Linked DNA regions of Homo sapiens. The protein of the gene in region 3 purifies or fractionates together with the protein of the main gene of each other region. This does not show direct contact. Each region holds a gene or a part of one and is shown on either strand. Other genes may lie near its edges.

What was found. Proteins that work in one complex are often made in the same cells at the same time.
Region 1: the proteins of PDIK1L (region 3) and PDCD11 purify together in Homo sapiens (affinity purification with mass spectrometry; one large-scale study listed by BioGRID and IntAct). This does not show direct contact.
Region 2: the proteins of PDIK1L (region 3) and TRIM58 purify together in Homo sapiens (co-immunoprecipitation; one large-scale study listed by IntAct). This does not show direct contact.

What each region holds. Positions count from the first base shown.
Region 1 is NC_000010.11:103,403,126-103,406,625, forward strand, and holds part of PDCD11 (protein RRP5 homolog), read left to right. Parts: coding exon 1-160; intron 161-1,896; coding exon 1,897-2,058; intron 2,059-2,859; coding exon 2,860-2,983; intron 2,984-3,483; coding exon 3,484-3,500. UniProt on the Homo sapiens protein: Essential for the generation of mature 18S rRNA, specifically necessary for cleavages at sites A0, 1 and 2 of the 47S precursor. Directly interacts with U3 snoRNA. Involved in the biogenesis of rRNA.
Region 2 is NC_000001.11:247,867,187-247,870,686, reverse strand, and holds part of TRIM58 (E3 ubiquitin-protein ligase TRIM58), read right to left. Parts: intron 2,843-3,500; coding exon 2,820-2,842; intron 2,725-2,819; coding exon 2,624-2,724; intron 1-2,623. UniProt on the Homo sapiens protein: E3 ubiquitin ligase induced during late erythropoiesis. Directly binds and ubiquitinates the intermediate chain of the microtubule motor dynein (DYNC1LI1/DYNC1LI2), stimulating the degradation of the dynein holoprotein complex.
Region 3 is NC_000001.11:26,121,824-26,126,055, reverse strand, and holds the end of PDIK1L (serine/threonine-protein kinase PDIK1L), read right to left. Parts: intron 4,220-4,232; coding exon 3,479-4,219; 3' UTR 501-3,478; downstream 1-500.

The sequences.
Region 1 (3,500 bases), on a different chromosome or scaffold from region 3:
TGAGGGAATGCGTATTTTGGGTTGCGTGAAAGAGGTGAATGAACTGGAACTGGTGATTAGTCTCCCCAATGGCCTCCAGGGCTTTGTGCAAGTCACTGAAATCTGTGATGCCTACACCAAAAAGCTGAATGAGCAGGTGACACAAGAACAACCTCTGAAGGTAAGGGAAATCCGAATGAAGCCTGTTATTGAAAATAAGTGGAACACAAATAGATTTAAAATTACAACTTTGCCAGGTGCTAAGAAGGGAAAGTACAAGGTCCCGTGAGAGTTTATCATAAAGGAATTTTTGACTAAGTCTGGGAGCCTGGAAGACTGTTGAGGAAGGGATGCTTAAGCTGAGATCTAAAGAATGAGGGTTCCCTAGATAAAGAAGGAAAGGCGTTCAGGCAGAAGCAATGTAATATATAACAGAGAGAAGGCTAGTATGGCTAGGTAAGGAGAGCAAGAGAGAGTGTGATGTGAGATGGGCAGGAGAGCCTGAATGGGGGCCAGGGCACATGCAGCCTTGTAGACCATTTTAAGGGTTGTTTTTAAATTCTAGAATCAATGGGAAGTCCTTGAAATGTTCTCACTGGGGTACAGCATAACGTGTAGATTGAAGAGGCATGAGAAGTTGCTTAGAGACAAGTTAGGAGGCTCTTGTAGTCGTTCACGTCCTGAGATTGATGGTGACCTGGGTTCAGGATTTCCTGAGGACTGAGGAGGCAAAGTCATTGCTTGGTGATAGATTCAATATGGGTGGTGGGGCAGATAGAGGTGTCAGGGCTGAGTTCTAGGTTTCTGTTTTGCATGATTTGATGCTTGGTCATGACATCCTGAGATAGGAAACCCTGAAGGGGACCTGGATTGGGAGAGATGATCATGATTTTTCAGTTTTTGAGACAGAGTCTCACTCTGTTGCCCAGGCTGGAGTGCAGTGGCATGATCTCAGCTCACTGAAACCTCCATCTCCTGGGTTCAAGTGATTCTCCTGCCTCAGCCTCCCCAGTAGCTGGGATTACAGGTGCCAGCCACCACACCCAGCTAATTTTTGTATTTTCGGTAGAGACAGGGCTTCACCATGTTGGCCAGGCTGGTCTCTAACTCCTGACCTCAAATGATCCACCCGCCTCGGCCTCCCAGAGTGTTGGGATTATAGGTGTGAGCCATCATGCCTGACCTATGATTTTTGTTTGTTTGTTTGTTTTTGAGATGGAGTCTCACTCTTTAGCCCAGGCTGGAGTGCAGTGACATGATCTCAGCTCACTGCAACCTCCAGCTCCCAGATTCAAGCAATTCTCCTGCCTCAGCCTCCTGAGTAGCTGGGATTACAGGCAGATGTCACCACACCCAGCTAATTTTTGTATTTTTAGTAGAGACAGGGTTTTACCATGTTGGCCAGGCTGGTCTCAAACTCCTGACGTCAGGTGATCTGCCCGCCTTGGCCTCCCTAAGTGCTGGGATTACAGGCATGAGCCACCACACCCGACCCTCAAGTGCTTTTTAATGGTCATGTAAGAGATAGACTGCAAAACTGACCACTGGATTTAACAATATGGAACTCATTGGTGATTCTATGGGAGATAGAGTGGTGGAGTGAGAGGGGTGGAAAGCAGATTGCAGTGAGCCGAAGAATGAGTAAGGGATGAAGTAGAGGCAGAAAGTGTAGACAACTCTTTTGACAAGTCATTTTACATGCCAGTTATGTGGAAATATTTGAAGGCCTTATGCTGAAATTCAAGACTGTGGCTAGGCCACAGACCCAACTTCCTTTGTGGATGGGGGGTTATTCCTCACCCACCTTTTGGGTTCTCTGGGGTCTGAGGATGAGAAGTCACTGAGCCAAAGCTGGGTAATGGATTTTTGGTTCAGGAGAAGGGTGTATATCAGGTCTTTCTCATTTGTGTTATGCAGGACCTACTTCACTTGCCTGAACTTTTCTCACCTGGAATGCTGGTAAGATGTGTGGTGAGCAGTCTGGGCATCACAGACAGGGGCAAGAAGAGTGTCAAGCTGTCTCTGAACCCCAAAAATGTCAACAGAGTGCTGAGTGCTGAGGCCCTGAAGCCTGGCATGGTAGGTGTCTAGGGTCGGGGAGGAAGAGTGGCAATGTGCCTTCTCTCTGCCTCTGAGGGAGCGTGGTCTAGGCCACCTTTTACTTTCAGCTCAATTGTGACACATAGGAGTGGTTCTTTTTCTGGAAGGAAGGTCTCTTGGGTTCTTTGGGCACTTAATGGACATTGAAGACTTGAACCTAATCATTACATTGGAGAAGAGAAAAGAGAAAGCAAGTCCAAATTTCTTTTTTTTTTTTGAGTCGGAGTTTCGCTGTTGTTGCCCAGGCTAGAAAGCAGTGGCATGATCTCGGCTCACCACAGCCTCCACCTCCTGGGTTTAAGCAATTCTTCTGCCTCAACCTCCTGAGGCAGGGATTACAGGTGCCATGCCCAGCTAATTTTTGTATTTTTAATAGAGACGGGATTTCACCATGTTGGCCAGGCTGGTCTCAAACTCTTGACCTCAAGTGATCTGCCTGCCTCAGCCTTCCAAAATGCTGGGATTACAGGCATGAGCCACTGTGCCCTGCCGAAAGTTTGCTATCTTTTGAAACCACTTGAGGCAAGAGACTCTTCTATATTGTTCCATCATTCAGCTGTGTTAAACATTCCTCATTGCCTGGCAACCATCAGCTCCTTCAAGCCTGGGAGTGTTGAATTTGATGTCTGCTGTCTAGTGGGATTGTGGCTTAAGGTTTAATGTGGGAGTGGGATAGTGGCAGAGTGTGAGCTTAGTGGCAGGAACATTCAAGTTTGGATGTTTTGTGTGTGTCCCATTACCTTTGAATTGGAACTTCTGGGACTACTTTCTCTTCCCCAGCTACTTACAGGTACCGTATCCAGCCTGGAAGACCATGGCTACCTAGTGGACATTGGTGTTGATGGGACCAGAGCTTTTCTGCCACTGCTGAAAGCCCAGGAGTACATCAGACAGAAGAACAAAGGTGAGGGCAAGAAAAGGGGCCAGTACATGGTGGTGAGGTGGTACATGTGGGGATTATATTTAAGTGCCATTTTGATGAGTAACATGACAGAATGGTGACCCTGAAGGTGCTGTGGCTTTGGTAAAACCAGCACTTAATCCTAGTTAATAGGAAAGGAAAGATGTATGAAGGGCCAGCGAGTGGTAAGGTCTCACTAAGATCTGATGGAACAGTGTCAGTTTTTCTAACCTGGAAGATTCCACTGCAATTAGGGCCCCCATGGCTTCTGAACCAGCAGTCTCCTGGCTTGTGTATTTTTGTGTGGTAATTGAATTCCAGATCAATTAGGATAACTTCGTTTCCTTCTTGTAGTTGGCCCCTTAAAGATTGGGAATTTGGGGAGTAACTGATGCTAACTGGGCAGGTAGGCCATGGGTCTTTTCAGGTATTACTTGGGCCCACGTTAAAAGTCCTTCTCATAGATACATTTTTCCTTTTGGGGCCTGGGTCTGGGCTTACAGGTGCTAAACTAAAGGTG
Region 2 (3,500 bases), about 220 Mb from region 3:
ACTCTGATACTGCTCATGAATATACTAATCCTCGTTCTTCTGGGCGTGGTGGTGCAGGCTCTATGGGTGGCCGTGACTCTGATACTGCTCATGAATATACTAATCCTCGTTCTTCTGGGCGTGGTGGTGCAGGCTCTATGGGTGGCCGTGACTCTGATACTGCTCATGAATATACTAATCCTCGTTCTTCTGGGTGTGGTGGTGCAGGCTCTATGGGTGGCCGTGACTCTGATACTGCTCATGAATATACTAATCCTCGTTCTTCTGGGCGTGGTGGTGCAGGCTCTATGGGTGGCCGTGACTCTGATACTGCTCATGAATATACTAATCCTCGTTCTTCTGGGCATGGTGGTGCAGGCTCTATGGGTGGCCGTGACTCTGATACTGCTCATGAATATACCAATCCTAATTTTTCTGGGCATGGTGCACTCTCCCACGGAAGGAGACCAGGGAATTTTACCCTAAAATATGGCACCCTGGTATGCCCATTATTTTAAATTAAAGGCCCTTGGAGACCATCACACACTGTAAGAAGCTTTATTCTAACACTCATTTATCTGCCTGAAGTCCCTGCATTTTAATTAATTTAGCTCATATTGCAGGAAGACAGACAAGTCTATCAATACACCTGGACAGACTTTAGTCACAAACCACTGTCTACTTTTCAACACTTTGTCCCAAGCCACTGTATGCACTCCAAGCCCAATGAATCCTCCAAAAAATCATTTACTATCTCCCTAAAATCATCCACACCTCCCCATCTCCCTTTCCTCCAATAAAGAAAGGTATATAAGCATCTGTATCCCACTGCGTTATTGGGTCATTACTCTCCTGCGATTCCACTGTGCTATGAATGTTAGACTTTTTCTATGCCTTTGTTCCTATTTGTCTTTGGTCAGTTGATTTTCAGCAAACATTCATAGGGAAAGGGGAAAGTTTTCCCTTGCCCCCTACACTGTCTCCTTGATAGTTTGACTTAGCCATGAAATCTCAGGAAGGCCAGATGCTCTAATTCAGCATGGGTACCTTTAAGAGGAGTGCATGAGTCACCATGCCTATGATACTGTGAAGTACGTATTTGGTCTACAGTGCAGGAGGCACCATACCTATGACACTGGGAAGTATATATTTGGTCTACATTCACCATGCCTATGATACTGTGAAGTGTGTATTTGGTCTATATCCTGTTTACTGACATACAGTTCTTAAAATCCTTGAAATTTCCAGAAATACAAGAGTGTCTTTTGTAAGCTAATAAGATGAATTGTGGTTGGTGATTACCCAGAAAGCCTCCCACTGGGTGTGGTTGCCAGGGGAACCAACCATGTGATTAGAGGCTTGAAACTTTCAGTCCTTCACGCCTCACCCCCCCCCACCTCTGAAGAGGGAGAGGGGCTTAAGGGTGGGTTGGTAAACCAATGGCCTATGATCTAATCAATCACGTCTACATAGTGCTTCCATAAAAACCCAAAATAACTGAGTTCATTGGCCAGGCACAGTGGCTCACGCCTGTCATCTCAGCACTTTAGGAGGCCGAGGCAGGCAGATCATTTGAGGTCAGGAGTTCGAGACCAGCCTGGCTAACATGGTGAGACCCCGTCTCTACTAAAAATATAAAAATTAGCCAGGCATGGTGGCATGTGCCTGTAATCCCAGCTACTCGGGAGGCTGAGGCAGGAGAATCGCTCGAACATGGGAGGTGGAGGTTGCAGTGAGCTGAGATGGCGCCACTGCACTCCAGCCTGGGCGACAGAGTAAGACTTCATCACACACACAAAAAAAAGAACTGAGTCCTGAGGACTTCCAGATCACTGAACACACGGAGGTTCCAAAGGTAGCAGGCCTAGAAAGGGCGTGGAAGCTCCGTACCCCTTCTCACAAACCTCGCCCTAAGAATCTCTTCCATCTGTTCATCTCTAGCCTCTGTAACGCCCTTATAATAAATGAGTAAATATGTGTCCCTAAGTTTTGTCAGCTGTTTCAGGAAATTAAGTGAACTCAAGAAGAGGGTTGTGGGAACCCCAGTTTACAGTCAGTTGGTCAGAATCACAGACCACAACCTGTGCTTGTGACCAGCATCTGAAGTGGGGTCAGTCTTGTGGGACAAAGCCCTCAACCCGGGGAACCTGGTGCTATCTCCAGATAGATAGTGTCAAAATCAAATTGCATGGAAGGACATCTGGCTGGAGTATCTGCTGGAGAACTGATTGGCTGTTTGCGGAGAGAAATCCCCACACATTTTGGTGACCAGAAGTGATGTGTTGTATTGACTCTGGAAGAGAACTTCTTCCCCCATCTCTTCAATAACCCTGCCCTTTTCTATGGCTCCCAGCACCAAGAGGGAGGTAGAGCTCTGTCAGTATGGGTACCAGAGTGAGAAGATGTGGCACAGAAGTCCCCACACCTAGGAACAAACCAACAGCACACTCTCAAAATAAATTTCTGCTGATCTGGGCCACTAAGACTTTAGGTTCTGTTGGTCACTGCAGCTGACTGGCATAGTGACAAACCACAATACGAGGCAAACCCCAGGCAGCCTCATTCCCAGTCTCTAAGATGCAACTACCTTGGAACTTCTTCAAACCCCAGGCAGCCTAATTCCCAGTCTCTAAGATGCAACTACCTTGGAACTTCCTTAAGAGCTCCCTCCTCCCAGGGATGCAGCATGCTGTCTTCAGTTCCATGGGGATGTTCTCTGCTTCCAGCCTTGTGACAGCCTTACTTCTGGGAAGAGCACAGAAACCACAGAAGTCAGCAGGGTTCTCCACCAGCTCCTCTGCCTCTCCCAATCCCTTCACCAATTCAGAAAGCACACATACCTGCTCAGGACTCCTCTCACACCCTGAAAAGGAAAGAAAAACACAGTGTGAGTTGGACTCTGAACTGCTTTTCACAGTCAGACTGAAGACCCCATAAAAATTTCCTTAGAAACTACTGCAAAACATTATTGAGATAAAATTATAGGGGACAATAAATCTCTTTTCTATTTTTTTTTTGAGATGGAGTTTCGTTCTTGTTGCCCAGGCTGCTGGAGTGCAATGGCGCAATCTCGGCTCACTGCGACCTCCACCTCCCTGCCTCAGCCTCCCAAGTAGCTGGGATTACAGGCTCCCGCCACCACGCCTGGCTAATTTTTTTTATTTTTTTGTATTTTCAGTAGAGATGGGGTTTCACCATGTTGGCCAGGCTGGTCTCGAACTCCTGACCTCAGGTGATCCACCCACCTCAGCCTCCCAAAGTGCTGGGATTACAGGCGTGAGTCACCACACTCAGACAAATCTCTTTTCTTTAAAGCTATACAAAGTTTAGGTTAATTCCTGCAACACCTATCAATTTAATTATCTTCTGAATTAATAATTCTGCTACTTGGATATTGTAACAGAGTAACATTCTGCATGTAATTCAGACGGAACAGGATAAAATAGATCCTAAGTACTCATAGAATTTATTTGAGGGGCATGGATAGGTTCCTCAAATAAAGACACAAAATGTTTCCCTAA
Region 3 (4,232 bases):
GTCACATGTAGAGTTGTTTTCTGTCTTCCATATTCTCCTCTGCTGTTCCATTGGACCACTAAATAGACTGTATCTTCAGGCAGAAATGATAAACATAAAAAAGTGGGCCCAAATTTTTAATAGAAAATTAAACCATCGTCTCAAGTTATAGATTGAAAAACTGCATCCTCTCATTTATTTAATATATATTATGCTGAGTCTGAGCTGCATCCTCAGCTTAATGAAACAGAAGGATAAATGAATAAAAAATTTCATCTCTGGCAATACGAGTTCTTCTTGTGTGCAAAGCAAATACAGCAAGACAGCACTAAAATTTCAGAGAACTTGAAATGCTGAAACTCCTATAATTCAATCATCTTTTCCTTGGCAATCACTTCTATTTCAGAATCATTTAAAAGGTAAGTCTGAAAAATACATTGTTTCAGATTTTATACCTTCTATTTTATGCTCATGAAGTAAAGTACTACAGAACTACTCACAGAGCCACTAAAGCAGCAATGTAGAATTTTCAGTTTTTTTTTTGTTGAAACTCACTTTATTTAAAAAAAAAAGTCATGAACAATAAATTACAATCATTTTCCCCTTTTATAAATTCTTCATAAAATATATTTGACAATTTTAACAGAAAATTTCAAAAGTTGCTTTCATTTCTTAAGTGCTGATGACTTATTTTTTGACCATTTTGTCATGCTGGTGAATTACTTTGTAGCTGCTACAATAGTTTGATTGATAACAATTTACAATTAAAAACAACAACAACGAAGAGAAAAAACAGACCAGCAGAAAGAACTATTCTGTGTGCTATTTATCTGACACTTAACACTTACTTCATCATAATGACAAAGTATCCCTTAGCACCAAAAAATCTACAGGAACCCCATCTTTCTAAGTGACAACTAGTGCAAAATAACATTCTAGGAACTAACTGTACAACCCCATATTTTCACTGGCCACAGCTGCCTATAAGCTCATTTGAAATATTTGGTCTTTTTTCAATTAAGACAAATTTCAAAAAACACCATAAATCATGGCAAAAGACTCTATGAGGAACAATTGCTTATTGAGTACCTATTATGGGCAAGGCACTGTGTACGAAGTTTTGCTTTCATTTTTCCTCTAGCAAATATCCAGGTATTTCCAAATATCACTAACCATCTTTTCTTACTCCTGGCTGAAAAGGCCTTTGGCTAAATGCCATTTTTTAATTGTCATTTTATCAACAAACCTTTAGTGCTGAGCACACAGTAGGTACTTAATAAATACCTCTGACTGAAAGAACAAAGACAAAGAATTTACTATCATTTTGCTTGGCTATTTTAGAATACAAGGACTTGATAAAATTCCAGAAGAAACTTCCTGATCACCTCATACCCTTACCCCCAATGAAAGAATTTCACTTCACAGGTAAAATCTTTCCAAGTAAATGATAATCATTAACTATTTTACATGAGGCAGGACCAAAAACTATGCGCTTAGGAAACTGTGGCTCCAAGCACATAGATATTTGAAGAGCAAATGATGCATGGGCATACCATCATCTATGAATCTCTGCTGAAGTGCCATGTTATTGACTAGACGTTATCATGATGCTTTTTCTTACTCCCTATAGCTCAACTTCCTTGGACATATCTGTTAAATTAAACTAATCTGGTGATCCAGAGGGTCAATTATCATGAGGTTCCAGTGTGTTTCCACCTCTAATTTCCAAAAGAATTCTTATATTTATTAGCTTAAAAGTGATGTTAAAAGTATATGATTTTTCATTTTAAGAGGCTTTATTTCAATAAAACCTTTTAGTCCAAATTTTAAACTTCCAGATCAAGTAACTAACATAGTCCAGAAATTTTATGTACTGCAATTTTTTTTGTGATGTTTTACATTCTATTTCCTCTGAACACATTTGAAACAGGGAAAAAAATTATGACATATTCCAAAAATTGTGGAAGTTCAAAAAAGCTGAGATTATGAAAGCTATCAATAATTTCAATATTCTAATACTATTTTGACTTTTGACCAAAAATTCTAGTGCTTTATAAAGATTAACTTAGATACAATGTAAAGTCTATTTAACCTTAAAGGCTAATGTTCTGTTTTAGGAAAGCATTCTATCCTTTAGATTTTAACTATCTGCATTTACAGGAAAACAAATTGTAGACAACCATACAAAGATAAAATCAAACTAACTTCAAGAGGAATAATGGTCTGTTGGTTTTTTGACATAGACTGTATCAGTGATTGTATAAAATGGATAGCTTTTCTACTTTAAAAGTAGTTGATGCCACAATATTTTATCCATTTGCCATACTGTGTATGTATCTTCTCCCACTTTAGATAAAGGTGATCACATTTTCAACAACCATATTATTACCAGTACTGTTTCAAATCAGACAAGAGAAAACAGCATCAGTGCCAAAATGAAAGGAACTCCAGTGACTCAACAAGTGATCATATCAGGGCAGGCAAAGTGAGGGTGGAGCTCATTTGGTTTCTTCAACTTCAGTATAATGAGGCTTAGACAAAGTCTTCAAACCAAAAATGTATCAAGTATTACAGTTCACACATAGCAAAGTTTTCAAACAGAATAATCCTGTATTCAGATTTATATCAGATTGTAGAAGCTCAAGTGCAGACGTCCCAATGCAGTGGTATAGTTGGTTAAATAAATGCTCGGTTACCTAAAGAAGGTCGGACTGAATCACCAACCTGCTGCCATATGACTGCATGACTAATTCAACTCTTGCAGCTATAGGGCACTGGAGAGTTCAAACATACTTCAGCAGCTTTGGATCACTTAATTTCATTTGTTTTACCAGATAATTTTAGACCCTCGAAAATGATGCCTTAAAAAAAAAGCTGTATATTACAAAAAAAAAAAAAAACAACTTAATATGATTTCATTAGGGGGAGGGGCAGAGTAGGAAGATAAGGGAAGGTTTATTTTTCGTCACTGACTTCACCAGCAAATCTCAAAAACCCAAACCTACATCAAATAATTTAAACAGACGTGGCATTTTTTTCATATGGAATGCAAAATGCGCACATTCACATACTTACATATACATAAATATATACATATATGTTTCCTTTACAAAGTTTCAAAGGTTGCATTACCAGCATGCAAACCTCTTTTCCCATGGAAATTCCTAATACTGACGAGGAATGTCTAAAATACTTAAAGACATATTTCCAGAAAACTGGACTCTCTTCTCTTGTTAGCTCTTAAAGAATTTTCCTGCCAAACTTCTATCAATAATCATTTTTTAAAAATTTACACCCACATTGGTAATACACATTTGAAACATACTAATAAAACGGCCAACTTGGATTTAAGAAAAATGAGGAAAAAAAAAATCCCACAAAAAATCTAAACCCTTAGAGGGTAGAGTCTAGCTTTTTATATTCTTTTTCAGCCACATAATGTTGCATCACTGTTAAACAGAAGCAGCATATCATCCATGGTATTTGCAAATAATATGTGTCACGTTTCCCAGCTGCTATCTTTAAATGCAATTTGTACTAATCTGAGTTCTAGTTCAAAAGCATCTGGACGATCCTGAGGGTTTGCAGCCAGCATTTCCTTAATCAGTTGTTTCATTCGCCCATTCATAGATTTTTTCTTCACAGGAATGAGAAGTTCCATTTTGGGATTTTCCAGAAGTGCCTCCCCAACAGGCACAATCTCAGTTCCTTGTTTTACATAACTCCCCAAGAGTTCCTTCTTTGTCTCTGTGTCTATGAATGTGATCCTTTCCAGCATTGCCCAGATGATAATCCCCAGAGCAAAGATGTCAGCTTTTGCTGTGTAATGTCCTTCCCAAACTTCAGGAGCCATGTAAAAATCTGTTCCACATGCTGTGGAAAGGAAACACTTGTTTACACTGACAGGTTCTTCTGGGTTCTGCCCAGAGGCTGAACAAACTTTACTTAGACCAAAATCAGCCACTTTGAGGGTAGGTTCCAAGTCACTGGTATCCAACCTGGTTTGAGAAATCAGGATGTTATCAGGCTTAAGATCTCGGTGGATGATCTGGTTTTTATGCAAGAAAGCCAGGGCACTGCTCAGCTGAAGCATGAAGCTGGTGTTAGTTTTACGATTGGGTTTCCTGGACAACAGATACTCATTCATATCTCCTCCGTCACAAAAATCCATCACAAACCACAAATAATAGGCGCTTCTGGGATCAAAGGCAATTTCTCCTTTTAATGAAGTTTCTACAAGCTACAAGAAGGAA